2 separate regions of the Homo sapiens genome follow, and region 2 is linked to region 1. Evidence: fine-mapped expression QTL. A gene starts in region 1. The other region holds a variant in brackets. All regions are shown on one strand. Distances are between the middles of the regions. Region 1 holds the start of SARAF (store-operated calcium entry associated regulatory factor). Region 2 has its middle 44 kb from the start of SARAF.

What was found. PIP is the estimated chance that this variant, and not a neighbour inherited with it, causes the effect.
Region 2: its variant is the best candidate, but not a certain one, in a credible set for the expression of SARAF in lung (TOPMed, PIP 0.55).

What each region holds. Positions count from the first base shown.
Region 1 is chr8:30,075,840-30,091,871 of GRCh38, forward strand. SARAF (store-operated calcium entry associated regulatory factor) reads right to left here and starts at 7,225. Exons shown (of 6, transcript NM_016127.6): 1 at 7,008-7,225. The coding sequence starts at 7,110. RefSeq lists enhancers at 617-666, 6,789-7,138 and a silencer at 7,179-7,548.
Region 2 is chr8:30,031,087-30,047,118 of GRCh38, forward strand. It overlaps the pseudogene RNU6-1218P. Among named protein-coding and RNA genes, the nearest start is that of SARAF, 44 kb to the right of the region's middle. RefSeq lists an enhancer at 2,257-3,078. The variant C/T (reference allele first, on the strand shown) is at 8,231.

The DNA.
Region 1 (16,032 bases):
ACGAAAGAGGAGATGACAGCAGAATTTTGGAAGGAGAAAGTAAATGGACTAGTGGTAGATGACTAGACCTAAGTGAAAGACAAATGCCAGAACAGCAAAGGGGGAAACTGAGAATCAACCTGATGTACATAACAGAATCCCTAAAAAAAAACAAAAAAAAAAAAACAAAAAACGGGAAATGGCAGCTCTGGAATGGGAGATGCCTGGAATACACACTACAGGGTGAAAGCTACTTGAGAGGAAGCCATATTCCCAGATCCTCTCCCCAACTCCACACTGTTCTAACTCCCTCTTCCCCACTAAGGAAACTGTCTGGAGATGTATTCTCTGGAGAGGATAAAACTGAAGGGATTTGCATTGGGGACCATCTGGCATAGTAAAGGGCATGGGGACAAAAACAACCAAACAGGGAACCCAAGTGACTGTGTGCACTCTGACTGCTGAAAGCACAGTTCTCCTTCCCCACATGGTGCACAAAATGCTAACAGCCATCCCCTTGTCCTCTGTGGGAGACTGGATGACTATTCCCTTGGTAATCTAACCAAGAAGAAGTACCTAAATACACTGACATCAGGAACTTCCTCCAAAAAAGAGCAACCTAGGTCACCCTGTTGTGAAGTTCAAAATCAAAAGTGCAACTGCACACTGATAGCTTCCAATGAGCTTTTTGGTTCCCCAGAATTAACCATGAGCAGGGAGCCAAGGATTACTAAAAATATGAGGAAAGTCCCTGCTATGGTTTGAATGTGTCCCCCAAAGTTCACATGTTGGAAACTTAATCCCCAATGCAACAGTGTTGAAAGATGGAATCTTTAAGAGGGCTCTGCCCTCATGAATAGATTAATGCTGTTCTTGCAGGACTGGGTTAGTTATCGCAGGAGTGGACTCCTGATAAAAGGATGAGTTAGGCCCCTTTCCCCTCTCTCACTCTCTCCCTTCTGCCTTCCACCATGGGATGACACAGCAAGAAGGCCCTCACCAGATGCTAGCACCTTAATATTGAACTTCTCAGCCTCCAGAACTGTGAGAAATGAATTCAGTTTTTTAATAAATTTCCCAGTCTGTGGTATTGTGTTACAGTAACATTAAACAGACAAAACAGCCCCTAACATGAAATACAGCAACCAGGACAAAACAACAACAAAAGGAAGCAGGAGGAAAAAAGAGATGACGCACAAGAAGAAAACTTTTTTAAAAACACTGTAATATCCTCAGAGAGATAAGAGAAAAAGACTGCGTTAATAAAACAATCATTTTTAAAAGGGATACTCAGAGAAAAAACAAGAGCTTTTGGAAATTAAAAACAGGACAGCCAAGATTAAAAACAACAGAACTGCCAGGTGCAGTGGCTCATGCCTGTAATCCCAGCACTTTGGGAGGCCAAGGCAAGCAGATCACTTGAGCCCAAGAGTTTAAGACCAGCCTAAGCAACATGGCAAAACCCTGTCTCTACAAAAAAAATTATAACATTAGCCAGGTATGGTGGCACACACCTGCAGTCCCAGCTACTTAGAAGGCTGAGGTGGGAGAATCACCTGAGCCTGGGGAGGTCGAGGCTGCAGTGAGCCATGCACTCCAGCCTGGGTGATAGAGTGAGACCCTGTCACAAAACATAAATAAATAAATACATACATACGACAGAACTGTTAAAAGAAAATCTTCTAGAAAGTAGAGCAAAAAGAGGCCGGGCGTGGTGGCTCATGCCTGTAATCCTAGCACTTTGGGAGGCCGAGGCAGGTGGATCACGAGGTCAAGAGATCAAGACCATCCTGGCGAACACGGTGAAACCCCGGCTCTACTAAAAATACAAAAATTAGCTGGGGATGGTGGCGCGTGCCTGTAGTCCCAGCTACTCGGGGGGCTGAGGCAGGAGAATTGCTTAAACCCAGGAAGCAGAGGTTGCAGTGAGCCAAGATTGTGCCACTGCACTCCAGCCTGGCGATAGAGCAAGGCTCCATCTGAAAAAAAAAGGAAAAAGAAAAAAGAAAGTAGAGCAAAAAGATAGAAAGTAGGAGAGAAAGGCTGGGCACAGTGGCTCACGTGTGTAATCCCAGCACTTTGGGTGGCCGAGGCAGGCAGATCACAAGGTCAGGAGTTCGAGACCAGTCTGGCAAATATGGTGAAACCCCGTCTCTACTAAAAATACAAAAATTAGCCAGGCATGGTGGCGGGCACCTGTAATCCCAGCTACTCAGGAAGATGAGACAGGAGAATCGCTTGAACCCGGGAAGCAGAGGTTGCAGCGAGCCGAGATGGTGCCACTGCACTCCAGCCTGGGGGACAGAGCTAGACTCCGTCTCAAAAAAAAAAAAAAGAAAGAAAGAAAAAAGACAGTAGGAGGAAAAAAAAAAAAAAGAAAGAAAGAAAATTACCAGTTCAGGACCAGTTCAGAAAGTCCAAAAATCCAACAAGGGCTTCTGAAAGAATGAACAAGGGAATCTGATTAGACAAACTCCAGGCTGTAATTCAAGAAAAGTTCCCACACTGAAGGACTTGAGTTGTCATACTGAAAGGGCCCAACAAATACCCAGGCCTGAGAAACAGACCACACAAAGGCACACGAAAAGTAAATTTTAGAACACTGAAGACAAAAAAAGATTCTACAAATTGCCAGAAGAATAGGGAGAAAACAAGCCATATAGAAAAGATAAGACTTAGAAAAGCTTCAGGTATCTCAACAGGATAGAAAAAGAAAATGGAGAAATATATTCAAAAACTCTAAAGGAAAAAGTCTGGCTGGGTTTGCCAACCATCGCTTTGCTAATGGTGGAACAAACTGATGTTACAACATCTCCTATGATGTATTTCCCACAAGTATTTAATATGAATCTAATCAATCTAATAAACTTAAGGTCAATACCCTATCTATATAAAAAATATATATAGAGAGAGAGACCTAAATATACTTCCAACCAGGAACCCAATAGGGTTTTTTGGGGAAAGAAATTATGTTAAAGGTCCTGTGGACAATTTTTTTTTGAAAAAGAACACATAGGTTACCAGATAGTAAAGGTTACTATAAAATTATTATCATCAGCCAGGCACGGTGGCTCACGTCTGTAACCCCAGCACTTTGGGAGGCCAAGGAGGGCAGATCACCTAAGGTCAGGAGTTCGAGATCAGCCTGGACAACATGGTGAAACCCCATCTCTACTAATAATACAAAAATTAGCTGGACGTGGTGGCATACGCCCGTAGTCCCAGCTACTTGGGAGGCTGAGGCAGGAGAATCACTTGAATCCAGGAGGTGGAGGTTGCAGTGAGCTGATATTGCTACCACTGCACTCCAGCCTGGGCGACAAGAGTGAAACTCCATCTCAAAAAAAAAAAAAAAAAAAAAGATTATAATCAAAATAGTAGGGAATTGGAACAGAGACAAGGAAATTGTGAAACAAAAGAAAGATCAGAAATAAATCAAGATACATTTGGGAATTCAGTAAGATGAAGTGGTCTTTTTAATTTAGTGGATAAAAGATGTCTTCTTTAATAAATAGCACTGGCATAATTGACTATGCAGCCACAAGAAAATCCACCTAAAGCTATATAAAAATTTAATTCCACATGGGCTACAGATCTAAAATTTCCAAGAACTATATTCAAATAAACCATGCTACATTAAACACAAACTACTACCTCCTCATACATAAAAAATAAGACAATGAAAATGTTCAATGGTTTAGAAAAATCAGACTGTATTAATCAACTAAATAACAGAAATAATAAATTGAATTTATTGTAACAGAGTTGCAATAATGCAAAGAACACTGAACTAAGTTGGTGTCACTAACTGGCTGTGACTTTGGCCAAGGCATTTAATTTACCTGTGTAGAAGTTTCCTCACCTACAAAATTAAAATATTATCAACCTTGAAATTTGTTGTGAAGCTTAGATATAATTTATTATCTGGCTGAGTACTTGAAGCATAACAGGTGATCAGGTATGATAAATATTACTGAAAGTTTTAAGATGGAATAGCATTACCATAATCCTATAGCATCTTTCTTCCCTAGAGATTCTTAAGGTCCAAGAACAAAATTCTAATACCCACGCCCCACTAGTTAGATCAGTCAAGGGACACAGGAGCTCCCTGAACTCCAGACTCATAAATCAAAATCACGGCAGGTCTCAAACAAGATAAACAAAACCAAACTCCCCTAAACCTGATCATCCCACATTCTTCCACATCTCAGGAAATGGTTAACTCCATGCTTCTAGTTGCTCAAGCCAAAAACCTTGGACTTCTCATCTTCTCTCCTCTCACTCCTACATCTGATCCTTCAGAAGATCATGTTAGCTCCACCTTCCAAACAGGTGACAAGAGAATCCAGCTACTCTAACCAGCTCTCTACTGCTCCTGCCCTGGGCCAAGCGGTCACCACTCTAAGAACTTACTGTACAATATTAAAATAGATAGCAATATATATTAATTCACTGGTTTCCCTGCTTCCCTCCTACCCTCTTCGGTCTGTTTTCCACAGAGCAGCCCAAATGAGCCTTTAAAGATATAAGTAATTTCAGGTCATTTACTCCTCCTCCCCACTTCAGGTTTCCAGTCAAATGTCACCCTAACAGTGACTTCCCTGACCAATGTACGTTTTTTAAGTCTCCACTTCTGCCCGCACACCATGTCCTCCTTACGCTGTTTATCATACACGGTGCATACCAATTTTCACAATATAGCATGTTATTTACATGTTTATCTGTTTATTGTCTATTTCTCCCCAATAGAGGTAAAGTCCTTGGAGGCAAGACACTGTTTTGTTCACTGCTATATTCCCAACACCCGGAAGAGTAACTTAATATAAGATTACATTCAATAAGGAATTTTGAAAATTCATTGGTAATCTCTTTAGAATGGTGCTAATTTTTTTTTCCAGACAAATTACTGCTCAATGTGAGCTAAAGTAATGGCATCCAAGTCAAACAAAAGATAAATTAGGGAGCCGATTAATGCTTTAGTAAAGGACTTAATAAATAGTATGTCAATAAAGTATCTTCATTTAAAAAGTTCCTCAAAGTGCCGGGTGCGGTGGCTCACGCCTGTAATCCCAGCACTTTGGGAGGCCAAGGCGGGCGGATCACCTGAGGTTGGGAGTTCAAGACCAGCCTGACCAACATGGAGAAACCCTGTCTCTACTAAAAATACAAAATTTGCCGGGCATGGTGGCACATGCCTGTAATCCCAGCTACTCGGGAGGCTGAGGCAGGAAAATCGCTTGAACCCAGGAGGCAGAGGTTGCGGTGAGCCAAGATCGCGCCATTGCACTCTAGCCTGGGCGACAAGAGTGAAACTGTCTCAAAAAAACAAAACAAAACAAAAAAGTTCCTCAAAGTAAACTTTGAAGTAGAATTTACATAAAACAATTGAGTTTACTCTGCAAAATATTGTGGTGCTTTGTGTTCCAGAACAATAGTTTTACAGCGTAGATAAACCAGGAAGTGGTTCATCTTTAATTTAAATTTGGTTCTTCTTTCATAGTTTTTATAGTTCTTCTGGCTCTTCAACTGTAAACTTCCTTTATTAAATTTATTTACGAACTGATTCAAAGTTCAACAAATTAAAGTTTCATTCTAGGTTTTCACTTGTAATTCTGATCAAGTCTCCCACTCATACACAGCTTTCTAGAAATACAAAAGAAAAACGTACAGACATTTAAATACAACTTGGCTTTTTATTTTTGGTAATAAAATGTCCACATCAAATGACTACTCAACGTGATGTGCTTGCAAATAGCACCTTCTCTCTCATTTCAGCATGTAAGAATAGGCTATTATAGAAATAAACCTGTTGCTTAAATTCGACAATGCAGGCATTTCCAATCACCAAATCACAAAGGCAATATGCTTTCCATGCCATCTTTACTTCGCAAAGCAAAAATGATGTTGTTTTCATTTTTTTTTTTTTTTACAGAATTCCAAAGTAACAGCATGCGTCATTTATTACATGGAAAAAGTCAAAATCTGTATCTAAGTATATAGACATATACGTATTAATTGCACGGAATATTACTGATCCCATGAAAATTCTTTAGACAATTTTAATACTGTACTGACATAAAAGAACCTCTTTCCTAAAACCCACTTATCATGTACCATCACTAAAAAAAACCGAGAAAATTATTTTTTAAATTCTTCTCTACGGTGAAAGCCAATGGGAAGAGCTGGTGCCGCGCGATGTACATCACTGCAATCGTCAGATAAGAGGCAGCGGTTCTCATAAAGACGCGGTGGCTCACGCCTGTAATCCCAGCACTTTGGGAGGATGAAGGCGGGTGGATCACGAGGTCAGGAGGTCGAGACCAGCCTGGCCAACATAGTAAAACCCCGTCTCTACTAAAAATACAAAAAAATAGCCAGGCATGGTGGTGGGCACCCGTAATCTCAGCTACCGGTGAGGCCGAGGCAGGAGAATCTCTTGAACCCAGGAGGCGGAGGTTGCAGTGAGCCGAGATCACGTCATTGCAGTGCGGCCGGGGCGACAATGTGAGACTCCGACTCAAAAAAAAAAAAAAGAGTGCAATCTGCGATTCTGCTAACAGACCTGCGAGGTCTGCAGCCCTGTCCGCTAAGGGTGACTCAGAGACTGCCAGTGGCAGGCAACGGCCGGCGATAGCAACAGGCAGCCATGACAACAGCAGGCCACGATGACATCACACAGCCATAACAACAAAGCAGATGCGCAGGTGAGTGTCCAGCTCTCCAGTTATACTCAGAGATGAGAAAGACGACAATGGGCAAATTCCGGGAGTCCGGGGCAGGGAGAAAGGGGACCTTAAGGATCTCCAGCCGTCCCGCCCCGCCCACTCGAGCAGTCCCTACCCGCCTCCCAAGACGCCTGGGAAGAGCAGTGGAACCAGGGAGAGCACGAACAGCAAAGAGGTCAGACATGGGGAATCCGGGCACCCAGGCTCCGGGAAGACGGCGCACGGAAACGCAGGGGAGCCTGCACCGGCTGACGGCGGCGGAAAAGGGCGAACGAAGCGCCTGAGGGCCCTGGCAGCACTCACCAGGGTCGTTCCAGCCCAGGGCAGGGCCCGCGGTCAGCAGAAACAAATGCAAGCCGAGGAGCAAGCAGTACCCGGCCGCTCCCGGCCCGCAGGCTGCGGCCATGGCGCTCGATGAAGATGGCGCCGGGCTGCCAGACGCCTACGGGCCGAACCTGGGTGCGGTAGCGCGCGCGACGCTGCGCAGCTACACCGCTACCCCTGGCGGCGGCGAAGGAACGGCCCGACTGCAGAGCTGCAGCCGCAACGGATCCGTGCGCCAACCCTACGTCACTGCCGCTGCGGCCCGTGGGGCTCAGTGAGTGGCCGCCGTGGGCCCCCGCCCCTGGAGCACAGCGCGGCTTGGGGCGGGGCGAGGCGGTGTGGGCGGGGCCAAGGGCCTGGGGAGGCACGGCTGGAGGCGGGTTGGAGGCGTGGCGCCGCGGTGTGGGCGGGGCCGAGGGCCTGTCGCCGCCGCGCCCGCGGGCGGGGCGAGGGCAGCGCGCAGCTTTGTTGTGTCTCGTCTGAGATTCGGGAAGCTTCTGTGCGTAGGCGATGCAGTTTGAGAGGCTGAAAACGTCACGACGCGAAATCTAAGAAATGTAGTCAAATTATGTATTATTAAAACCTCAATAATTGTACCAAGGGTAGTTCTGTGCTTTATTCAGCTCTATGTGTTCAGCACTTAGCATAGCGCTTGGTACATGGTTAGTGTTCTATGACTGGTTGCTAAATACAGAGAAGATTCAAGCGAAAAGTAACAGGGAAATACATTGTCTGGTTTCAAGGCTCAGAACCTTTACATGGTTCCTTGCGCATGGAGGCCGGAAGACTATAAAATGTCAAGAGGAGAAAATATCGTCTGAATGAAGAACCAGCCAGAGAAAACAGTTCTCTGGGCTTTTGAGGTCTAGCAGGCTTGGGTTTCTTTCATTCATTCATTCATTCATTCATTCATTCATTCATTCAATGAATATATGTTGAATACCTAATACGCACCAGGCACTGTTTTAGGCATGGATGGTACAGACAAGATCCCTGTACTCATTGAAATAGAATAGGACAAACGACATACCAATTAAACAACAAAAATAATAGGTAATGATAGGTAATAACATTGATGAAAAACAGGGTGATATAATGGAGCCTGGGGACACAACTTCAGGGAGGGCCTTGCTGAGGAAGTGGTTTTTGAAGCTTGGGACCTGAATGATGAGAAAGAACTAGCCGTACAAAGATCAGGGGACTCATCTTCCCATCTGGGGAACAGTGGATGCAAAAGCCCTAACTTTGTGTTTCGAGGAAGAGTTATTTGGTCAGATCCTATAAAGAGTTCAGTCCCACAAGATGGCCCCAACTTCAGACATCAATCACAAGTCTCAGGTTGTGACCTATGCTTCTGACCAACCAGCTATAAATTAGGGTTTCCAGGCCGGGCGTGGTGGCTCATGCCTGTAATCCCAGCATTTTGGAAGGCCAAGGCAGGTGAATCGCCTGAGGTCAGGACTTTAAGACCAGCCTGGCCAGCATGGCAAAACCCCACCTCTACTAAAAATAGGAAAAATAGCTGGGCGTGGTGGTGCACACCTGTAATCCCAGCTATTTGGGAGGCTGAGGCAAGAGAATCGCTTGAACCTGGGAGGCGAAAGTTGCAGTGAGTCAAGACTGCCCCACTGCACCTGGACCATGGAGAGAGACTCCCTCTCAACAAATAAATTGGGGTTTTCATAACCCCCCATCTTGAGTTCCATAATTTGCTAGAATGGCTCACAGAACTCAAAAAAACACTTTATGTTTACCAGATTATTATATTGAGCACCTATTAGTACCTAACAGTACCTGCCAGGCACTGTTATCAGTATTGGGGATACAGCAGTGAATAAAACAAAATTTGGGGGACAAGAGGCAAACAAGGCCATAACTGAAGCAAAGTAAGTTAGGGGAAGAGTGGAATAAGAGATGGCAGAGCAGTGGGGCCTCGGCATGGAACCAACCAATGCTGGGACCAAGGACTGAAATAAGAGATAATAGAGAATCTATGCTCAACATGTTAAGTTTGAGGTGACTATTAGGCATCCAGGTAGACGTGTCAAATAAATAGATAAACTGTAAAAGTCTGAAGTTCAAAACTAAGGTAAATTTGGTAGTTATGTTGTAAATATAAAGATAGCATTTAATGTCATGATGCTATTGTTTGAATGTGTCCCCCAAAGCTCATGTGTTGGAAACTTATTCCCCAAAGCAATAGTGTTGAGAGGGGGGACTCTTAAGGGGTGATTAGGTTATGAGGGCAGAGCTCTTAATGCTATTATCACAGGAGTGGGTTAGTTATTGGGGAGTGGGTTCCCGATAAAAGGGATGAGTTCAGCTCCCTTTCTCTTTTGCCTACCACCGTGAAATGACACAGCAGGAAGCTCCCCACCAGATGCAGGCCCCTGGACCTAGGATTTCCCAGCCTCCAGAACCATAAGAAATAAATCTCTATACTTTATAAATTTCCCAGTCTCAGGTATTCTGTTATAGCAACACAAAATGAACTAAGACATGTGGGAAGAGACACAGTAACATGAGAGAATTGAGATACCACAAAAAAGGAGGCCCAGGCTATGGAAACACTAACATTTGAACCTCAAGCAGAAGATTCTAGAAAGAATCTGAGAAGTAACCTCTGGTGAAGAAGGAGGAAGAACTAGGACAATAGGATATGGTAATTGAGAGAAAGAAAGAATGGTCAACAGTGTCCACTGTTGCTGAAAGCTTGAAGCAAAATTTGGTCTCTGAATTTTGCAATGTAGAAATCACTAATTACCTTAACAAGAGAATGTTTGTTATTTTAGATTCCCACCATGTACCATGTACAGTTCTGGACAGTCATGAACAAAAGATGAAAGGTTGTTATAATAAACATTCTAGTGGGAGAGGTAGCCAACAAATCATGTCATTTCAAATAAATAAGTGCTTTGGGCCAGGCACGGTGGCTCACACCTGTAATCTCAGCACTCTGGGAAGCCGAGGCTCAGGATCACTTGAGACCAGGAGTTTGAGGCCAATCTGGGCAACATAGTAAGACCCCATCTCCACAAAAAATTGTTTTTAAAAAATTAGCCAGATGTGGCCAGGCACAGTGGCTCACGCCTGTAATCCCAGCACTTTGGGAGGCCGAGGTAGGCAGATCATGAAGTCAGGAGATCGAGACCATCTTGGCTAACACAGTGAAACCCCGTCTCTACTAAAAATACAAAAAATTAGCTGGGCATGGTGGCGGGTGCCTAAGTCCCAGCTACTCAGGAGGCTGAGGCAGGAGAATGGTGTGAACCCGAGAGGCGGAGCTTGCAGTGAGCCAAGATCGCACCACTGCACTCCAGCCTGGGCGAAAGAGTGAGACTCCGTCTCAAAAAAAAAAAAAAAATAGCCAGATGTGGTGGCATGTGCCTGTAGTCCCAGCCACTCAAGAGGCTGAGGTGGGAGGATCACTTGAGCCCTGGAGGTTGAGGCTGCAGCAAGCCATGACTGCATCACTGCACTCCAGCCTGGGCAACAGAGCAAGACTCTATCTCAAATAATAATAAGTACCTTGAAGAAGAAAACAGAGCAATATGACAGGTAGTGCCATAACAAGTAGGATGGCCCAGAAAAGATTCTCTGAGAAATTACCATTTGAGCTGAGAGCTAAATGATGAGGCTGTAAAAGGAAAAAACAAACTGTTTTCTCCTTTCTACTGGCACAAAACACAGAGCAGTTCTGTGACCAGAAGAGGGGCTGGGGGAGTATTTCCCTACACACCAACCAACTCTAAAGGACATCAACACGATGTCCTATAACTCAATTCAAGTTAAGGGCCCAGTCTCCCACAAGACTGCCCCAATTCAGACGTCAGTCCAGGAAAATATTTTATGTTTACCAGTTTATTGTAAAGGATTTATAAAGGATACAGATGAACAGCCAGATGAAGAGATGGATAGGGCAAAGATAAGAAGGCCATGGGGCTTCCATGCCCTCGCTGGGCACTCCACCCTCCCAGCACCTCCCTGTATTCAGCAACCTAGAAGCTCATGAAATCTTGTTGTCTAAGAGTTTGTATAGAGCTTAATCTCCAGCCACCCGCCCCCGATCTCTCCTGTTGGTTGGTGGGTGGGCTGAAATTTCCAACCCTCTAACACTCTAATCACATGGTCTTTCTGGTGACTGACTTTTTGGTGTCTGTAAACAATACAGTATAACAACTATTTACATAGTATTTACATTGTTATTAGGTATTATAAATAATTTAGAGATTATTTAAAGTATACAGGAGGGGCTGGGTGCGGTGGCTAACACCTGTAATCCCAGCACTTTTGGAGGCCCGAGGTGGGTGTATCACTTGAGCCCAGGAGTTCGAGACCAGCCTGGGCAACGTAAGAAGACCTTGTCTCTACAAAAAAAAAAAAAAAAAAAAATTAGCCAGGCATAGTGGTGCATGCCCGTGGTCCCAGCTACTCGGGAGGCTGAGGCAGGAGGATAGCTTGAGCCTGGGAGGCAGAGGTTACAATGAGCCGAAATCACACCACTGCACTCCAGCCTGGGTGACAAGAGTGAGACCCTGACCCAAAAAAAGATTTTTTTTCCTCTGAGCTTTCTCTGAATCAACCTGTAAGAGTTAGTAATTCTCAGTTTACAAAATTGTGAAGAGGATTAAATGAGATGAATGCTAAAGCACCAGGCAAATAGCACCTGCTGAAAAAGTAAGAATTCCCTTCCTCTCATCCACATTCTCATCTCCACCATTTAACTTTGGAGAATGGAAAACCATCCATATAAGAAGTATTGAAACTGAAAGGTAACACTAATTAGCTATTACATAACAATAGAGAACATTTAAAGGATATGACATTAACTAGCATTTAGGGTTCCCTTGGAAAACTGGTGGAGAAAACTGACATTCTACCTTTTTTCCGACAATGACTTTCAAGCTTTGCTTTAGTTTGCACAGGAATTGTTTGAGATTCTTGTTAACTTTTCAGATTCCGGGCTTTACCCACAAGAGTTCTAAATTCAGAAGGTCGGGAGTAGCAGTCAAGAATTTGGAAGGCATCCCAAAGTATTCTGCTTTAGGTGGTCCTTGAAATACAACATTTAGACACACTGTTTTTAAGGTCTCAAGTGACTGTGAGAGGTGACAACGTGCTAGCAGCCCTCGCTCACTCTCGGCGCCTCCTCAGCCAGGACGTCCGCTCTGGCCGCGCTGGAGGAGCCCTTCAGCCTGCCGCTGCGCTGTGGGGGTCCCTCTCTGGGGCTGGCCGAGGCCGGAGCCGGCTCCCTCCTCTCCCGGAGAAGTGTGGAGGGAGAGGCGCGGGCGGAACCCGGGGCTGCGCCCGGCGCTCACCGCTCGCGGGCCGGCGCAGGTTCCGGGTGGGCGCGGGCTCCACGGGCCCAGCACTCAGCGCAGCTGGCCGGCGCCTGCTGGGCTTGATCAGAGGCTGGGTCCCGTGCGTGCACCGCCATTCCCTCTTCGCAGGGTCGTTGGCCAGAATGGCGGGTCTCCCTCTCTTTCTCGCTTCCCCTCTTTTCCTCTTGGTTGTCTGGGACAAGCTCCTTCTGGGCTACTGGAGCACCCGGGGTAAGTGCCGCAAAATCCCGCGAAGAGCGCCAGTGAGAGGTGAAGCCGGCTAGGCTTCTGGGACCGGTGGGGACTTGGAGAGCTTTCTGTCTAGTTAAAGGGCTGTAAATGCACCAATCAGCACTCTGTGTCTAGCTAAAGGTTTGTAAACACAACAATCAGCCTCTGTGTCTAGCTAATCGGGTGGGGACTTGGAGAACTTTTGTGTCTAGCTAAAGGATTGTAAACGCACCAATCAGCACTCTGTGTAGCTAAAGGTTTGTAAATGCACCAATCAGCACTCTGTCAAAACGGACCAATCAGCTCTCTGTAAAATGGACCAATCAGCAGGATGTGGGTGGGGCCAGATAAGGGAATAAAGAAAGGCCACCAGAGCAGCAGCGGCAATCCGCTGGGGTCCCCTTCCTGGGTGTGGAAGCTTTCTTATTTTGCTTTTTGCAATAAATGCTGCTGCTGCTCACTGTTTGGATTTGTGCTGCCTTTATGAGCTGTAACACTCATAGCGAAGGTCTGCGGCTTCATTCCTGAAGCCAGCGAGACCACGAACCCACTGGGAAGAACAAACAATTCCAGACGGGAGGAACGAATAGCTTTGGACGCGCCACCTTTAAGAGCTGTAACACTCACTGCGAAGGTCTGTGGCTTCACTCCTGAAGTCAGCGAGACCACGAACCCACCAGAAGGAAGAAACTCCGGACATGTCCGAACATCAGAAGGAACAAATTCCGGACCCACCGTCTTTAAGAACTGTAACACTCACCGTGAGGGTCCACAGCTTCATTCTTGAAGTCAGTGAAACCAAGAACCCACCAATTCCGGACACAACTGGTCCCTAGACCAGTAAACCAAAAATGGTCCTTAGAGTGATGAGTGTTTTTGTGCTGGAAACACTGAATCTCATGGGAAAGATAAGGAGCACAATCTCTCAGGATTCTGTGACCATGGAAGAAAAGAATGTAGATTCCTGTAACCTGATGAGTAATCCCAGTTGCCCATGAATGTTGTCAAGGACATCTGTAATGCCAACACATTTGTACTGAAAAGAGCAAATCAGGCTGGGGGTAGTGGCTTACACCTGTGATCCCAGCCCTTTGGGAGGCCAAAGTGGGAGGATCTCTTGAGTCCCAGAGTTCAAAACTAGCCTGGACAACATGGCAAAACCCCGCCTCTACAAAAAGTAAAAAATTAGCGGGCCATGGTGGTGCATATCTGTGGTCCCAGCTACTCGGGAGGCTGAGGCAGGAGGATAGCTTGAGCCCTGGAGGTGGAGGCTGCCATGACAGGAAGCTACCATGACTGTGATTGCTCCACTGCACTGCAGCCTGGGCAACAGGATAAAACCCTGCCTCAAAAAAAAAAAAAAAGGGAAATTTATCTTTGTAGCTATCTTATCCTACATAAGATAGCTACAAAGATAAAAATAATAATAAAAATAAATGAAAAAAATAAAGCTACATACCTACCTCACAATTTGCCCACAAGGATATTCCTTGTGGACAAAGGACAGAGAGAACTCAAAGTCATCCTTTGCTCACTGTGAGACAAATGCTTATCTGATTGCTTCCTTTGCCCTGTTTTTTCACTAACCCAGACTAAAGCATAAGTGACTATACCTGTAAATTGTGTATTCAGTGAAAGGCTAATCAGAAACTCAGAAGAGGCCAGACATGGTGGCTCATGCCTATAATCCTAGCACTTTGGGAGGCCGAGGCAAGTGGATCACTTGAGCTTAGGAGTTCAAGACCAGCTTGGCCAACATGGTTAAACCCGTCTCTAACTAAAAATACGAAAATTAGCCAGGTGTGGTGGCACATGCCTGTAATCCCAGCTACTTGGGAAGCTGAAGCAGGAGAATCACTTGAATCCAGAAGACAGATGGTGCCACAGCACTCCAGCCTCAAAAAAAAGAACAAAAAAATTAGCCACGTGTGGTGGTGGGCACCTGTAATCTCAGCTATTCGGGAGGCTGAGGCAGGAGAATTGCTCGAGCCCAGAAGTTGAAGGTTGCAGTGAGCCGAGATCGCACCACTGTACTCCAGCCTGCAGCTTGGGTGACAGAGTGAGACTTGGTCTCAAAAAAAAGAAAGGAAGAAAAAGAAACTCAAAATAAGGCAACCATTTGTCTCTTATCTACCTATGACCTGGACACCCCCTCCCCACTTTGAGTTGTCCCGCCTTTGCAGACCGAACCAATGTACACCTTATATACAGTTATTGATGTCTCATGTCTCCCTAAAATGTATAACACCAAGCTGTGCCCCAACCACTTTGGACACAGGTCATCAAGACCTGCTGAGGCGTGTCAAGGGTGCGTCTTCAACCCTGGCAAAATAAACTTTCTAAATTGACTGAGACCTGTCTCACATATTGTGGGTTCACAGAACAAAACAAGAAAAGGTGTTGTGGTAGGTGACATGTGGGATGGAATTATTCACTTCTCCAGGAATTCCACCTATCCATTCAAGATGGCTGGGGAGAAGGACGTATATGCCTGCTTCAGTAGTTTAGAGAAAGGAGCTGGTGGCTCACAGATTCCGTGTAAACAGCGTGTATTTCCATGGCATATGTTCAAGTGTGCCTTGTGGTTTTGTTACCACATCCTTAAATGGAAACTTTTTTCATGATACAGGAAAGAGATGGTAGATCTTTCTGCACTAACTTGAACAGAAAAAAATTCTACTCTCCTACAAAACACCCATAGACTCATTTGGTGCATTAAGACTCAAGAAGTGACCTGTTTGTTGTTGTTGTTGTTGTTGTTTAAATTGTAATTCAACTCTAGAAATAGTAGAGAGAAGCGAAGTGGGTAATGCCTCAAGCTTCCCATTTGCTCTCATTTTAAAGCATATTGGAAATATCTCTTCTAAACATTCACTCCACAGTCTTACATGCCACTTTATGTTAGTCTGATGACTGAAAAAAAGTTAAAAATTCAAATCGTACGTAGCTCACCCCCACCTACTTCCTTTTAAAACCTTCAAAAGATTTTTATTGCTCAGAGAGAAAACCCAAAACTGCTTGTGTACGTCCCTACTATATAAGCATGCTGCCCCACCCCAACCTTGACCAACCCCATTGGCCACCTCTCTTTTCTCCAAGGGACCAAGCAAGTTCCTTGCTCCATTTGCTGCCAAAGCTCCTAACTCCCCACCACACATACATACATGCGCGCACGCAAACACACAAACACACAAAAACACAACACACAAAACACACACAAACACACATGCACAAACACACGCACACACACAAACATGCATACACACGCAAACGTGCACAAACACGCAAACACATGCAGGCACACACAAACACGCCCACAACACAGACACGCACGCACACAAACACACATGCACGCACAAACGCATACACAGACACGCACACAAACGCACGCACAGACAAACGCACACACACAACACCCAAACACGCACAAGGACGCACACACACGCACACAC
Region 2 (16,032 bases), 45 kb before region 1:
GGGGAATGTATGTTATGTGAATTTTACCTCAATTTAAGGTGTGTCTGTGTACCATCGGATTATGTTATTCAACCTATGAATAACAGTCCATAGACCAGATTTAACACCCAGCTCCAACCAAATCCAAATCCAACCATTTGAATGAGGGCAAAAATTTTAGCCTCTGAGTCTCAGTTTCGTATATAAAAATGGGGTTGATAATAATGCCTGCCTTATAGAGTCCTTAGGATTAAATGAGCTAACAAAAGTAAAGAATATATCATGAGCCCTAGAATATAATAAATTCTCAACAAATACATAAACAGATGCACAGAAAATAGATAGCTATGGCTGGGTACAGTGGCTCATGCCTAGAATCCCAGCACTTTGGGAGGCCGAGGTGGGAGGATCACTTGAGTCCAGGAGTTTGAGATCAGCTTGGACAACATAGTGAGACCCTGTCTCTATAAAATAATGATAATAATAAAATGGCATCAGCAGTGGCTGGGCAAGTTATTTGTTGCTAGGAAAGACAAGTGTCATGAGTTTCCACTTTGCATAATGTGTTCACCAAAATTACAGCTCCACGTAACTTCCAGTCTCTTTCCCCATGCAAATATTTCCAAAGCCAACTTAAATCTCATCTCAATTAAGCCTTTCCAGTCACCCAAGCTGAAGATACCTCCTCTTCCACTGAGCTTCTCAGAAAAAGAAAAAAGAAATGAAGCAAAAAGAAAAGGTACCGCCAGGTGCAATGGCTCATGCCTGTAATCCCAGCACTTTGGGAGGCCAAGGCAGGAGGATCATTTGAGCCCAGCAGTTCGAGACCAACCTGGGCAACAAGGTAAGACCTTGTCCATGTAAAAACTAAATAAACAAATATTAAAAAAAAGAAAAGGCACTAATTTAAAAACCTCTGTCTCCTACCGTAACCTCTTTCCTTTGACATCATTTTCTCCATTTCCTCCCACATTTCTTTGATCTCATCGACATCCCAAAAACAATGACATTTCTACTTTTTTTTACCCAGCACATTCCTTCTCATCAAGCTACAATTCCATAGTCTAGCAAATGCATTTGCTGTCTTACAAATACCTTCAGCTCCTTGACCTTCTCCTTCCACAGCAGAACCTGAACTCTGCACAGATCCAATATCCACCTTACCTCCTCTATGCCTTGAACTTGAAACATTGGTTATTACTGGAGAAAAACACCCAGTTAAGCAGAATGGTAACAGGTCAAATTAGTAGTGACCAACCTCAAATTTACACTCAACCATGCCCAGAAATTTTCTTAAATTTCCTCTACTAAACCCTTCTCCCATTCTCCATTAGGATTTCATACCTCTCCACTCCACTAAAACTCTGACGTCCTGTTCCATGTAGCCTCAATTGATCATTCCTCACACTTCATGAAGAATACAGAACCCATCAAGTACCAAATCATCCCTCGTATTTTAACCACCAATTCTCCATCTGCAACTACAGTCTTCTTTTTCCGTCTATTACATAGAAATGCCTTTCCCATAATGAAAGTCATACTTCTCCATCTCTGCTCTAGATTGAATCCTCTTTTCACTCAGGGCCTTGCCGTGCACCAAGGTGTGAATATGGTGATCTGGGGGTTTTCTTTTACTTTTACATAAGTGATTATGGGGCCAGGCATGGTGGCTCATGCCTGTAATCTCAGCACTTTGGGAGGCCGATGTCGGAGGATCACTTGAGTCCAGGAGTTTGAGACCAGCCTGGGCAACAAAGTGAGACCCCCATCTCTAAAAATAAATAAATACAATATAATAAATAAAAGAAGCTACCATGGATTACTTACATAGTTTTTAAGGAAGAAATTAAGAGGGAGGTGTAATCCATTGTCATCAGAGAGTTCTGGCATCCTTGGAGAGGCTCTAACACTACATTGTCATTTCAGGTCAACATTCAGCCACCAATTCGGTTTTGGGGTAGGAATAGAAACTAAATTCTGCAGCCGGGTGCGGTGGCTCACACCTGTAATCCCAGCAACTTGGGAGGCCAAGGCAGGCAGATCATGAGGTCAGGAGATCGAGACCATCCTGGCCAACACGGTGAAACCCCGTCTCTACTAAAAATACAAAAATTAGCCAGGTGTGGTGGCACGCGCCTGTAGTCCCAGCTACTCAGGAGGCTGGGGCAGGAGAATGGCATGAACCCAGGAGGCGGAGGTTGCGGTAAGCTGAGATCACGCCATTGCACTCCAGCCTGGCAACAGAGCGAGACTGTCTCAAAAAAAAAAAAAATTCTGCCCACCAGAGAAACTGAGTAAACAAGTCTCATAAAGATCACAGGAAGTGCTACAGAATGTAGTTAACTATCTCTTGTGAAATAACAGGCCATATATCTCAAGTCTCTCCCATAGCTGACTTAATTGTTGCTAATTTTCTAATTTACCTAAATCACAAAAGTGAAATCAGAGAGATTACCTAATGACTGATCTGTTCGAAGACGAGTGAATTCAAAAGGCTTCAGCAGCACTGGAGAGCCTCGGGTGTGGGGAGGGCTCACCTCCGCAGGGCCACTTTTTCTTGTCAACGAATCACACAGTCAAATTACAGGAGAAAGTGACAGGAATTCGGCTAAATTCCAACTCCCGGCCTCAGAAGGTTATTCATCAACCCTGCAGCAGCAGCTCTCTGTCTGGCAGGGGAGGTTTCCTCTAATTATGTATCGCTCCCTGCGGGCCACCCGGCAGGACCTTTATTTTCTTCACAGTTATTAATCAGCTATCCAGTGTTAACAAGAAGATCAGATCCAGAAGTATGCAAATCCACCCTCAATTCTTTCTCCTAATCACTCAGCAGGCCACCTTAGGAGCTCGCTAATGAGCTGACCATCTGAAAGCCTCCTGCTAACTACCAAGTCTCCTATTCTTAATGATCACTTCCAAAATGGGATATTTTTGTTTCAAATACATAGGCCTATTCAATACCCTGAAATATATAACTTTTCAGCAACTTTCTGGCAAAACTTATCTAAATTAGGCAATGCTAAAACTGACTAAATTATAATAAAACCGAAGAAATGTCCAATGGGGAATTCAAATTCAACACCTGGGGACCTTCCTAACCCCAGAGACTGAGTCCCAATCTTTGTTACTTTTTTTTTTTTTTTTTTTTTTTTTTGAGCAGCGTCGCACTCTGTCGCCCAGGCTGGAGTGCAGTGGGGTGATCTCGGCTCACTGCAACCTTGCTGATACCACTCCAATGACTGGAGGAATACCAGGGTCCTCGGTCTCGTGCCGGTTTAAATAAAACGCACACACGTGGAGTGGTTTTAGGGATCGAAAAGTTTCATAGGCAAGAAAGAAGGAAGAAGAAAACAGCTCCCCCGTATAGAGACAGAGGGAGGGGTATTCAAACAAAGAGAAAACTCCGTGTGCGGCAGAAAAGTGGCTGCTTATAGGAAGAGGCCGGAGGAGGTGGTGTCTGATTTCCATAGGGCCCACCAGGTGTGTCATTTACATAACCCAAGAAAAACCTGGCCCTCCCACCTTAGCCCCGTAACATACAAATGCAGGTCGCCATGATGTTCTGAACACATGGTGTTATCTGGAGGTGGCCATGACAATTGCTACACCTGGTGACAAGGAAAAGATGGCAGGAATCGCCATATTGAGTGAACCCAGTTTCTAATGGCCTGTATTTGCATATTAAAGCTTGCTGGCCCAACCCTTCAAGCCACCATTTCTGTTAGAAAAGAGATGGTTCAGGGATTGTTTCTTATTCCAGGAAAATTTCCACCGAGAACCTTTACCCTTACTATCTGCCTAAAAATTATTTCTTAATAACTCCTGTATCATCACCTCCTGGGTTCAAGTGATTCTCCTGCCTCAGTCTCCCAAGTAGCTGGGATTACAGGTGGCCACCACCATGCCCGGCTAATTTTTGTATTTTTAGTAGAGATGGAGTTTCAACCATGTTGGCCAAACTGGTCTCAAACTCCTGACCTCAGGTGATCCTCCTGCCTCAGCCTCCCAAAGTGCTCACAGGCATGAGCCACTGCACCCCGCCCCAATCTGTGTTTCTATTATCAAAGTCTCATCCTTTGAATGTGTCTTCCTCTAACAACTTCAAAATAGGATCCCTGTTCTGAAGTAAGTATTACATTGAGCCTTACAAAACTACCAATCTAATAATTTTTTATCTACAAACATGGCGATTGTCAGGCCTCTGAGCCCAAGGTAAGCCATCATATCCCCTGTGACCTGCACGTACACATCCTGATGGCCAGTTCCTGCCTTAACTGATGACATTCCACCACACAAGAAGTGAAAATGGCCTGTTCCTGCCTTAACTGATGACATTGTCTTGTGAAATTCCTTCTCCTGGCTCATCCTGGCTCAAAAGCTCCCCTACTGAGCACCTTGTGACCCCCACTTCTGCCCACCAGAGAACAACCCCCCTTTGACTGTAATTTTCCTTTATCTACCCAAATCCTACAAAACGGCTCCACCCTTATCTCCCTTCGATGACTCTCTTTTCGGACTCAGCCCACCTGCACCCAGGTGATTAAAAGCTTTATTTCTCACACAAAGCCTGTTTGGTGGTCTCTTCACACGGACGCGCATGAAAGCGATTTTGTGGTTCAACTTAATATACTGGCCCTCAGAGTCTTTTGGAAAGGGATTGAGTTTTTTTAAGCATACAAATAAAGAATAATAATAATAAATGTAATAACTAACATTATTGAAGCATTCATTTAACCCTCACAACATTTAACACTCTCATTTCACAGATGTGAAAACTGAGCATAAAGAAGTTGAGTAAGGCCGGGCACAGTGGCTCATGCCTGTAATCCCAGAGGCCAAGGTGAGAGGATCGCTTGAGGCCAGGAGTTCAAGACCAGCCTGGGCAACATAGTGAGATGTTTCTATAAAAACTTTTTTTTATTATTTGTTTTTACTTTTTAAAAATTAGTGCACACATGTAGTACCATCTGCTTGGGAGACTGAATAGGAGATCACTTGAGCCTGGGAGATTGAGGCTGCAATGAGCCAAGAATGCACTACTGCACTCCAGCCTCAGTGACAGAGCAAGACCCTGTCTCCAAAAAAAAAAAAGGTTGAGTACTCTTCTCAAGGTCACAGACTGGCAAAGGCTAGATTCAACACAGGCTTGTCTGATACACAGCCATTAACCACTGTGCTGTATTTTCCGAAAAGTTTTTGTTGATAATGAAGGGACTCCCTCTGACCCCATATACTTTTCTAGGCATTGAAACTTTTACTTCTTCCACTGAGATCCCATAAGGGATAAAGTTGCACATGGGCACTAAGGGTGAGTCTACTGTAGGCAAAACAGGTATTGTGTGGGTGCACACATGTGCACATGCAGCATGCTCCTGTGGAAGTGTGTGCCATGTATGGAAATTAGGCTATGATCGTATGGTATGGACAACGACCTTTGATAGATTAGAATACTGAAGATTTCTAATTTTATGAACAGGACAGACTCAATGTCTTGAAAACTCTCCCACCATTAACACAGAGGAATGCCAGATGTAACATCCATTTGAATGCATAGCAACCAGCTGCGGTGGCTCATGCCACCCCATCTCTACTAAAACTACAAAAATTAGCCAGGCATGGTGGTACATGCCTGTAATCCCAGCTAATCAGGAGGCTGAGGCAAGAGAATTGCTTGAACCTGGGAGGCAGAGGTTGCGGTGAGCCGAGATTGCACCACTGCACTCCAGCCTGGGTGACAGAGTGAGACTCTGTGGAAAAAAAAAAAAAAAAGTAAAAACATTTGAATGCATAGTTAAGCTTACAAGAAAGTAGGAGAAATCCCCAGAGCTCAGCAATGAAGATTTGGTTTCTGAAAACCAGAGCATTATGTGAGTGAGCTGATGTGGCAACTAACCTGGATTGGTCGGGTTTATCTCCAACTTACGAAACGTTAGGAATTTGGTTTTAACATGTACACAATGATAAAGTGAAAGATCTTGAGACTGCCAAGTAGGAAGCTGAAGTAAGACCCACCCATCCTCCCTCCCCTGACTCCACATACAGCACAGGAAGAGTGGACTAGAAAAATATCTCTCTACCAGCATAACGAAATGACGTAGAAGTTTGTCTCTTCTGGCCTACCTAGACTCTGAATAGAAAAAGAAAAAAAAAGAAAAAAAATTAGTTTCCTCATCGGAAAGTCAATTATGGGTCAATGCCATGTGAGGACCCAGGAACCCCCAAGCCAAAAAATTAACACATAAATAGATCCTAGGATGGCTACATCACTGGAGCACCTGGCAGAAGAAAACCACACAGGAGGGACACACTCACCACCATTCTTACAAATAGAGCCCTGCTGAAGATGAACTCATAACATACAATCACACAACTCAGTACTTAATAATCCATCGTGAGCAAGAGCCAGCAGAAGTAACAAGCATGTAATAAAGTTCATTAGACTCTCAGAGCTTCAGGTTCCTGAATAATCAAATGAAGATGATAAAACAATTAAAGACATAAAGGAGAAAAGTAAACATAGAAGACAGTATAGAAAGGAAAAAAAAACTTCTGAAATGAAAAATGGAATCACTGAAACAGAAAACCCATTAGTCAAATTTGGCATCAGCTTAGACACAACTGAAAAGAGAAGAGTAGACTATGATAGGGCTCAGGAAATTGCCCAGAATGCAAAAGAAATAAAACACGGAAAGGGTTCAAGAGAGTTTAAGAGACACAGAAGAGAGAATGAGAAAATAAATATATATCTAATGGGAATTCCAGCAGAAACAAAGAGATGTGAGAGAGGTAATATTCAAAGAACAAATGGCTGAGAATTTTCTAGAATTAATGAAAGACATGAATCCTCAGATTCAGGAAGTATAATACAAAAAGTACCAAGTGGGAAATACAGAAATAAATCTATACCTTGTCACATTATAATAAACAGCAAAACACCAAGACAACAAGAAAATTTTAAACACCAAAAAAAAAGTAGATTACCTACAAAGGAATGACAAACAGCAGACTTAACAACAACAGAAACCAAAAACACAATATCTTCAAAGTGTAAAATTATAATTATCATCTAGGATTCTCTGCAGATAAAGGAGATAAACTATCACTAAAGAATGAAGGCAAACTAAAGACATTTTAAAGCAAACAAAGAATAAGAGAGTTGACCTCTGTCAAACTTTGGCTGAGAGGAATCCTAAAAGACATAATTTAGGAAGAAGGAAAAGAGGGCTGAGTGCAGTGGCTCATGCCTATAATCCCAGCACCTTGGGAAGCTAGGGCAAGAGGATTGCTTGAGGCCAGGAGTTCCAGACTAGCCTGGGCAACACAGCAAGACCCTGTCTCTACAGAAATATTTAAAAATTACCCTGGCATGGCAGCATGCACCTGTAGTCCCAGCTACTCAGGAAGCTGAGATGAGAGGACCGCTTCAGCCCAGGAATTCCGGGCTATAGTGAGCCATGATCACGCCACTGCACTCCAATTTGGGCCACAGAGAGAGATCCTGTCTCTAAAATGGGAGGGAACAGAGGGAGAGGGAGGGAGGGAGGGAGCCCAGAGGAAAGGAATAAGATGCAAATGTGTCAAATGTGGGTAAATCTAAGTAAGCATTGCTCATATAAAACAATAAAAAGTAACAAATTTGTGGAGGAAACAAAACATTGTGAAACTAGAATATTAGCTATGAATAACCTATTATTGGGACTGTTTCAAGAAGATTATTTTCTAGTTCTAGAGGAGGCTGGTGATGCTGATCAATTTCAGCCTGTCTTAAATCAAGACGCAAGTTAAATGTAAGAAATAGAAATTGAATGCATGATGTCGTTAGTTAAAAAGAAAAATGTGAATTTAAAAAAACACACTTAAAGCAAGACAAAAAAGGAGCAAAGAAAAAGCATAGTAAATAGAAAGCACAAAAGAGGACAGGAAGAAATCTAAACATGTAAATAATTGCAATAAATGCAAATGGATAAAATTCATTATTAATAGAGAATCAGCCTTTCAGAATTCATGTATGGCTGGGTATGGTGGTTCATGCCTGTAATCCCAGCACTTTGGGAGGCCGAGGCAGGCAGATCACCTGAGGTCAGGAGTTCGAGACAATCCTGGCCAACATGGTGAAACATCGTCTCTATTAAAAATACAAAAATTAGCCAGGTGTGGTGGCGCAAACCTGTAATCCCAACTACTTGGAAGGCTAAGGCACAAAAATCGCTTGAGTCCAGGAGACGTAGGTTGCAGTGAGCTGAAATCACGC[C/T]ACTGCACTCCAGCCAAGGTGACAAAGTGAGACTCCATTTCAAAAAAAAGTTTTTTAATTAAAAAATTAAAATGCAGGCATAAGCTGCTTACTAGAGACACAGTGGAATACAGAAAAGTTACAACTAAAGATGTAAAAATATATTACAAGTAAATATCATCGAAACTACTGATAGAGCTATGTTAATATTTTAAATAAGACTTTAAGTCCAAAAGAATTATTATGAAAAAGTAGATGAATGATACACCACCAAAAACATATAACAATTCTGAACATGTACTCAACTAATAACAGTATCAGAATATGAAGTAAACATGAGTAAAATTAAAAGGAAAGTTTTTAAACCCATTGTGAAACTGGGAAATTTTAACAAAAGTACCTCAATAGTAAATAAAGCAAATGGACAAAAAAAAAAAAAAAGTAAACAGAGGTCGGGCACGGTGGCTGATGCCTGTAATCCCAGCACTTTGGGAGGCCAAGGTGGGCAGATCACTTGAGGTCAGGAGTTCGAGACCAGCCTGGCCAATGTGGTGAAACCCCGTCTCTACTAAAAATACAAAAATTGGCCAGGCATGGTGGCAGGCGCCTGTAATCCCAGCTACTCTACTTGGGAGGCTGAGGCAGGAGAATTGCTTCAACCGGGGAGGCAGAGTTCGCAGTGAGCCGAGATTGCGCCACTGCACTCCACCCTGGGCGACGGAAAAAGAAAACACACACACACACACACACACACACATATATATATATATATATATATAAAATATATTATATATCAGATTATATAATATACTATAATAGTTATAGAATAATGATTGTAATACATAAATATAATAGATATATGGATATAGATAGTCTATATACACAAACACATATATATACCATATCAAGCTAATTTATTTTTTTCTCTGATTTTCTTTTTTTCTTTTTTTTATTTTTTTTTATTATACTTTAAGTTCTAGGATACATATGCACAACGTGCAGGTTTGTTACATATGTATACATGTGCCATGTTGGTGTGCTGCACCCATTAACTCGTCATTTACATTAGGTATATCTCCTAATGCTATCCCCCCTCCCCAATTTATTAACATATATAAAATATATAAAGTGTGTGTGTGTATATATATATACCACAGACAAAAATCAGCAAATACATGTGCTATTAAAACATAAACAGAATACTTTAGAGTATTTGAACATGTATTTGGTCTCAAAGTAAATCTCAAAAAGTTTTAACAAGCCAATCCTAACAAGATTCAAATAAACTGGAAACCAATAACAAAAAAGTAACAAAAAAATTATATAAAGAAATGTTAAAATACGCTTCTAAATAACTCTTATTTTTTTATTTACTTTTTAATTGAGACAGAGTTCTCACTCTGTTGCCCATACTGGAACGCAGTGGTGCGATCTCGGCTCACTGCAACCTCTGCCACCCAGGTTCAAGCAATTCTTGTGCCTCAGCCTCCCGAGTAGCTGGGACTACAGGTGCACGCCACCACACCAGGCTAAATTTTGTATTTTTAGTAGAGATGGGATTTCACCATGTAGGCCAGTCTGGTCTTGAACTCCTGACCTCAGGTGATCCACCCGCCTCGGCCTCTCAAAGTGCTGAGATTACAGGTGGGAGCCACCACGCCCTGTCTGAGTAAATCTTAAGTCAAAAAAAAAGTATAATGGAAATTAGAAAATAGTATGCATCAAAACGTATAAGATGCCGCTAAAGTTCTGCTTAGGAAAAAATGCATAGATGTCATTGATCATAATTGAAAAAAATAAAAATGACAATAGGGGAGCTAAACTTCATATATGTTATATATTGCTATGTTACAAGCTAGGCTGAAACTTAGTGGCTTAAAGACATAACAATTTATTATTTCTCCTGAATCTGTAGGATGGCTGGGCAGTTATTCTGTTGACCTTACCTGCATGTCCTGATGTGGCTACATTTGTTGGCAGGGACTGGGCTCCACTGGGATGGCTAGACCTCTGTCTATTTGATTTTATATCCTTAAGGCGCCTAAACTGGCCTTTTTCACATGGCAACATAAATGTCCACAAGGGAATCCCCAGTGCAAAGTGCTTATCAAGTCTCTGCTAGCCTCTTATTTGCTTATGCCCTGCAAGCCAGAGAAAGTCACATGGCTGGGCACGGTGGCTCACGCCTGTAATCCCAACACTTTGGGAGGCCGAGGCAAGCAGATGACTTGAGGTCAGTAGTTCGAGACCAGCCTGGCCAACATGGTGAAACCCCGTCTCTGCTAAAAATACAAAAATTAGCCAGACCTGGTGGCGAGCGCCTGTAATCCCAGCTACTTGGGAGGCTGAGGCAGGAGAATCACTTGAACCCAGGAGGTGGAGTTTGCAGTGAGCCGAGATCACACCATAGCACTCCAGCCTGTGCGACAGAATGAAACTCCATCTCAAAAAAAAAAAAAAAATGTCATATAGCCAACTCCAGCATCAAGACAGGAAGACTGCAAGGGTTTGGATACTAAAAAGAGAAATTCACTGGAGGCCTTTAATATATAACACTCTCAGCCAGGCACAGTGGCTCACTCCTGTAATTCCAACACTTTGGGAGGCCCAGGCAGTTAGATGGCTTGAGCACAGGAGTTCGAGATCAGCCTAGACAACATGGCAAAACCCCATCTCTACAAAAGATACAAAAATTAGCCAGGTGTGGTGGCACGCACCTGTAGTCCCAGCTACTCAGGAGGCTGAGGTGGGAGGATGGCTTGAACCTTGGAGGCAGAGGTTGCAGTGAACTGAGATCGTGCCACTGGGCCTGGACGACAGAGCCTGGGCGCCCAGCCTGGGCGATAGAGCCACACTTGGCAAAAAAAAATAATAATAAATACATATATATAATATATATACATGCACACATACATAAAACAATCTCTATCACAGTCTTCCCTCCACCTCAATGATTGATACCCCTCCCGCATGCAAGGGGCATTTATCCCCAGTCAGGACTCCGAAGTCTCACTCAATCATGTCATCAGGGACAACGTCCATGACAACATGATCTGCAAGGTTCAAATGTAGATGACGCTTCTCAAGTCCAACTTCTCTGGATCCAGAGACCCATGTACTAAAAAGACAAGTTATCTGCTCACATACGCACCCAGCATACAATGGTGAGGCAGAGATAGGACAGTCACAATAGACACCCCCCTCCAAAAACAAAAAGGAGTAATGGAAGGCATATAGTAACCACCAACCCATAGCCAGACAAATTTGATTAAGACCCTGGATTAACCCACTTGGGCTGCTATAACAAAATACACAGAAGGGATGGCTTAAGCAATATAATATTTTTAAGCAGCCTTTAATTTTTATTCTAAAAAAGTTTGAATTTACACAAAAATACAGAGAATAGTATAGTTAACCCATTATGTCTGTCATCTAGCTTCTTTTTTATTTTTCAATAGTTTTTGGGAAACAGGTGGTGTTTGGTTGCATGGAAAACTTCTTTAGTGGTGATTTCTGAGATTTTGGTGCACCCATCACTCAGGCAGTGTACACTGCACCCAATGTGTAGTCTTTTATCCCTCGGCTCCCTCCCACCCTTTCTCTCGAGTCCCCAGAGTCCATTTTAAAATATGGAATGTTGGCCAGGCGCAGTGGCTCACGCTTGTAATCCCAGCACCTTGGGAGGCCAAGGCAATCAGGTCACTTGAGCTCAAGAGTTCAAGACCAGCTTGGGCAATATGGTGAAACCCCGTCTCTACCAAAAATACAAAAACACTATTAGCCAGGTGTGGTGGCACATGTCTGTGGTCCCAGCTACTTAGGAGGCTGAGGCAGGAGGATCACTTGAACCCAGGAGATGGAGGTTGTAGCGAGCCAAGATTGTGCCACTGCACTCCAGCCTGGGAAACAGAGCTAGACTCCATATATATATATATATATATATATATATATATATATATATATATGGATGTGTGTGTATATATATGTATATACATGGATGTATATATACACATATACACATATATGTATATATACACATATATGTATATACACATATACACATATACACATATATGTATGTGTACACATGCACATATATACATATATGTATATATACATATATACATATATGTATATATACACATATACACATATATGTATATGTACACATATACATATATATGTATATGTACACGGATACACATATATGTATATGTACACGGATACACATATATGTATATGTACACGGATACACATATATGTATATGTACACAGATACACATATATACATATACACATATGTACACACGTATGTATGTATACACACATATACACATATATGTATATACACATATGTACATACATGTATATACACATATATGCACATATACACATATATGTATATACACGTGTGTGTATATACACGTGTGTATATACACATATATGTATATATACACATATATGTGTATATACACATATATGTGTATATACACATATATGTGTATATATACATATATATCTTCAAAAATTTGCATGCCATCCTTGCACAGCCACCACGCTAATCTTCTCTGTATCATTCCAATTTTTAGTATATGTGCTGCCAAAGCAATCACAACAATGGAAATTTATTTCTCAGAGTTCTAGAGGCTGGGAAGTCCAAGATCACAGTGCCAGCCAACTTGATTCCTGGTGAGGGTGCTCCTTCTGGTTTGCAGACAGCTGTAAAGCTCTGGTGTCTCTTCCTCTTCTTATAAGGACACCAGCCCTATTGGATTGGGGCCCCATTCTTATGACCTCATCTAATCTTATTACCTCCTCATAGGCACTGTCTCCAAGCATAGTCACACTGAAGGACAGAGCTTTAACATATGAATTTGAGGGGAGACATAATTCAGGCCATGCCAGACACCCTATTCTGGAGGCAGAGAATGTTCCTAGTTTAGGGCCTAGTTTTACATCCTGGGAATGGTTTCCTAATCCACTATTCCTCACAGTTCTGGGCTTCTTCTGGCTCTGTTCTCCAAGAGTTCCTATCTACACAACTGCTTGGTAGAGTGCAATATCTAGTAAGGTGGAAGGTGCCTATAGCCTGTGATCCATAAATTTCAATTCTAGGAAGTAGGCCCACAAGTTACTAACGTTGTGACCTTGAGCAAATAACCTCTCTCTGTGACTTAACTTCCTTCTGTGCCTCAGTTTCCCATCTGTAAAATGGAGAAATAATATGGAGTTCCTCATAGTCCTATTATGAGAATTAAATCAATCGGTACTTGTCAAGTGTTTAGAACAGTGCTTGGCAGTTAATATGCACTGTTTTTGAAATAATCTCAACATAGATCTATTTTTTTTTAAATACTATCCAACAGTAAGAGAATAAATACAATAATTGGGTTAAAGCCATAGAGAAATATTATGAAGCGGTTGAAAGGAATGACCCAGAGGAATGAACATAACTTTATAAACTTATGTAAAGTTGTAATATATTCAAACTATTCTTCACATAATCGTGCATTTGTCTGTAATTAAAATTTTTTAATATTCATGGGAATGATGAACTCCAAAATTAGAATAGTGGTTACCTCTGGGAAAAGAAAGAGACTAATGAGTTTGGGGAGTGATACACAGTGCCTGTAACTATACCTAGTGACTTAGATTCTTCAAAAATAGGGATCTGATATGGCTGGGCACAGCGGCTCACATCTGTAATCCCAGCACTTTCGGAGGCCAAGGCGAGCAGGTCTCTTGAGGTCAGGAGTTCGAGACCAGCCTGGCCAACATTATGAAACCCGTCTCTACTAAAAATGCAAAACTTAGCTGGGAATGGTGGCACATGCCTGTAATCCCAGCTACTTGGGAGTCTCAGGCAGGAGAATCACTTGAACCCGGGAGGCAGAGGTTGCAGTGAGCCAAGAGCACACCACTGCACTCCAGTCTGGGTGACAAGAGCAAGACTCCGTCTCAAAAAATAAATAAAACAAGAATAGGGATCTGATATGGCTGCGCACAATGGCTCATACCTGTGCTTCCTCCAAATTATGACCCTGTAAGGCTCTGTTTTAAGACAAGCACAGGAGGAAGAGCAGAACACAGAAAGGAAGTTATTAAAGATGCCTTCCTGTGGTATACTAAGTGTCCATGTGAAGGATATCAAGATCCCAGCACTTTGGGAGGCCAAGGCGGGTCAATCACTTGAGGTCAGGAGTTCGAGACCAGCCTGGACAACATGGTGAAACTCCGTCTCTACTAAAAATACAAAAATTAGCTGGAGTGGTGGCTTGCCTGCAATCCCAGCTACTCGGGAGGCTGAGGCAGGAGAATGGCGTGAACCCGGGAAGCGGAGCTTGCAGTGAGCCGAGATTGCGCCACTGCAGTCCGCAGTCCGGCCTGGGCGACAGAGCGAGACTCCGTCTCAAAAAAAAAAAAAACTCTGTCTCAAAAAAAAAAATAGGGATCTGAAATAGCTATAAGATAGCAGGATATTTGATATACTATTCTCCGTGCTCTTCTCATATTTGATGTATTTTGTAATAAATTTTAAAATTAATAATTATTCACAAGAAAATATATAATTGAGCACTGAGGCTGAATCTCCTGTTTTGGTCTCTGCAGATGCCTGACACACAGAAGAGAGCACTTGCAGTCCAGAAGACCCACCCTTGTTCCACCCTTTCAAAATTTCCATCGTAACTGATGTCACTAGGTCAAGAAAACATCCCAGCAACTGAGCTGGGGAGGAAATTGAATAAGAATGTACTTAAGGGAGGTGGATATAGTGTAAAGTAGGACAGAGATTCTCAACCCTGTTTCCTCTACAGCATACCCGAGAAATGAAAGTCACATCTGAAACTTACTCCCAAGAGTAAGCAGATATGTTTTTAAAGAGCTACGATTAGCTAGGCCAGGCGCGGTGGCTCACGCCTGTAATCCCAGCACTTCGGGAGGCCATGGCGGGCGGATCACGGGGTCAGGAGATTAAGACCATCCTGGCTAACATGGTGAAACCCCGTCTCTACTAAAAATACAAAAAATTAGCCGGTCGTGGTGGTGGGTGCCTGTAGCCCCAGCTACTCAGGAGGCTGAGGCAGGAGAACGGCGTCAACCCGGGAGGCGGAGCTTGCAGTGAGCCGAGGTTGCGCCACTGCACTGCAGCCTGGGCGACAGAGCGAGACACCGTCTCATAAAAAAAAAAAAAAAAAAAAAAAAAAAAAAAAAAAAGAGCTAAGATTAGCTATGGGTTATGCACCGCTTCATCATCTGCTGTCTACCAGCTATAAGTCCACCTCTTTCTCTTCCTCATATCAGGAGGGAACAAAACCCCTGACCTAAGGTTTGAAAACAGTAAGTCATTGATGTTGGACATCTGACCTCCTGACCAAACTAGACCAGGGAACCAGGCTTGCCTAGCCTAGGGCATGGTTGTGGATACTGGTGATACCGTCTGTCTCGATACCCTCTGCTGTTTCCTTATTATTTCTTCTTATTCTCTCCCACAAATGCAGTTTTGAGAGTAAATCATGAACCCAGAGGAGGAAAGCATGGGAATAGGGCAAGTTAGGACCCATGAGAATAGACTGAGGGATTGAAAGAGGATACCACATTCACTGCTGGAGCCAGTCACTAACAGCGGTTGTTAGTGGGGAAGAAAGGGGCGTGGCCAGGAGAGTTTACTATTCCATCCTCCCTCTCCCTTTCTCTCTCTCAATCTCTCTCTCTTTTTTTTTTTTTTTTTTTTTTTTTTGAGATGGAGTCTCTCTCTGTCACCTAGGCTGGAGTGCAGTGGCACCATCTCGGCTCACTGCAACCTCCTCCTCCGGGGTTCCAGC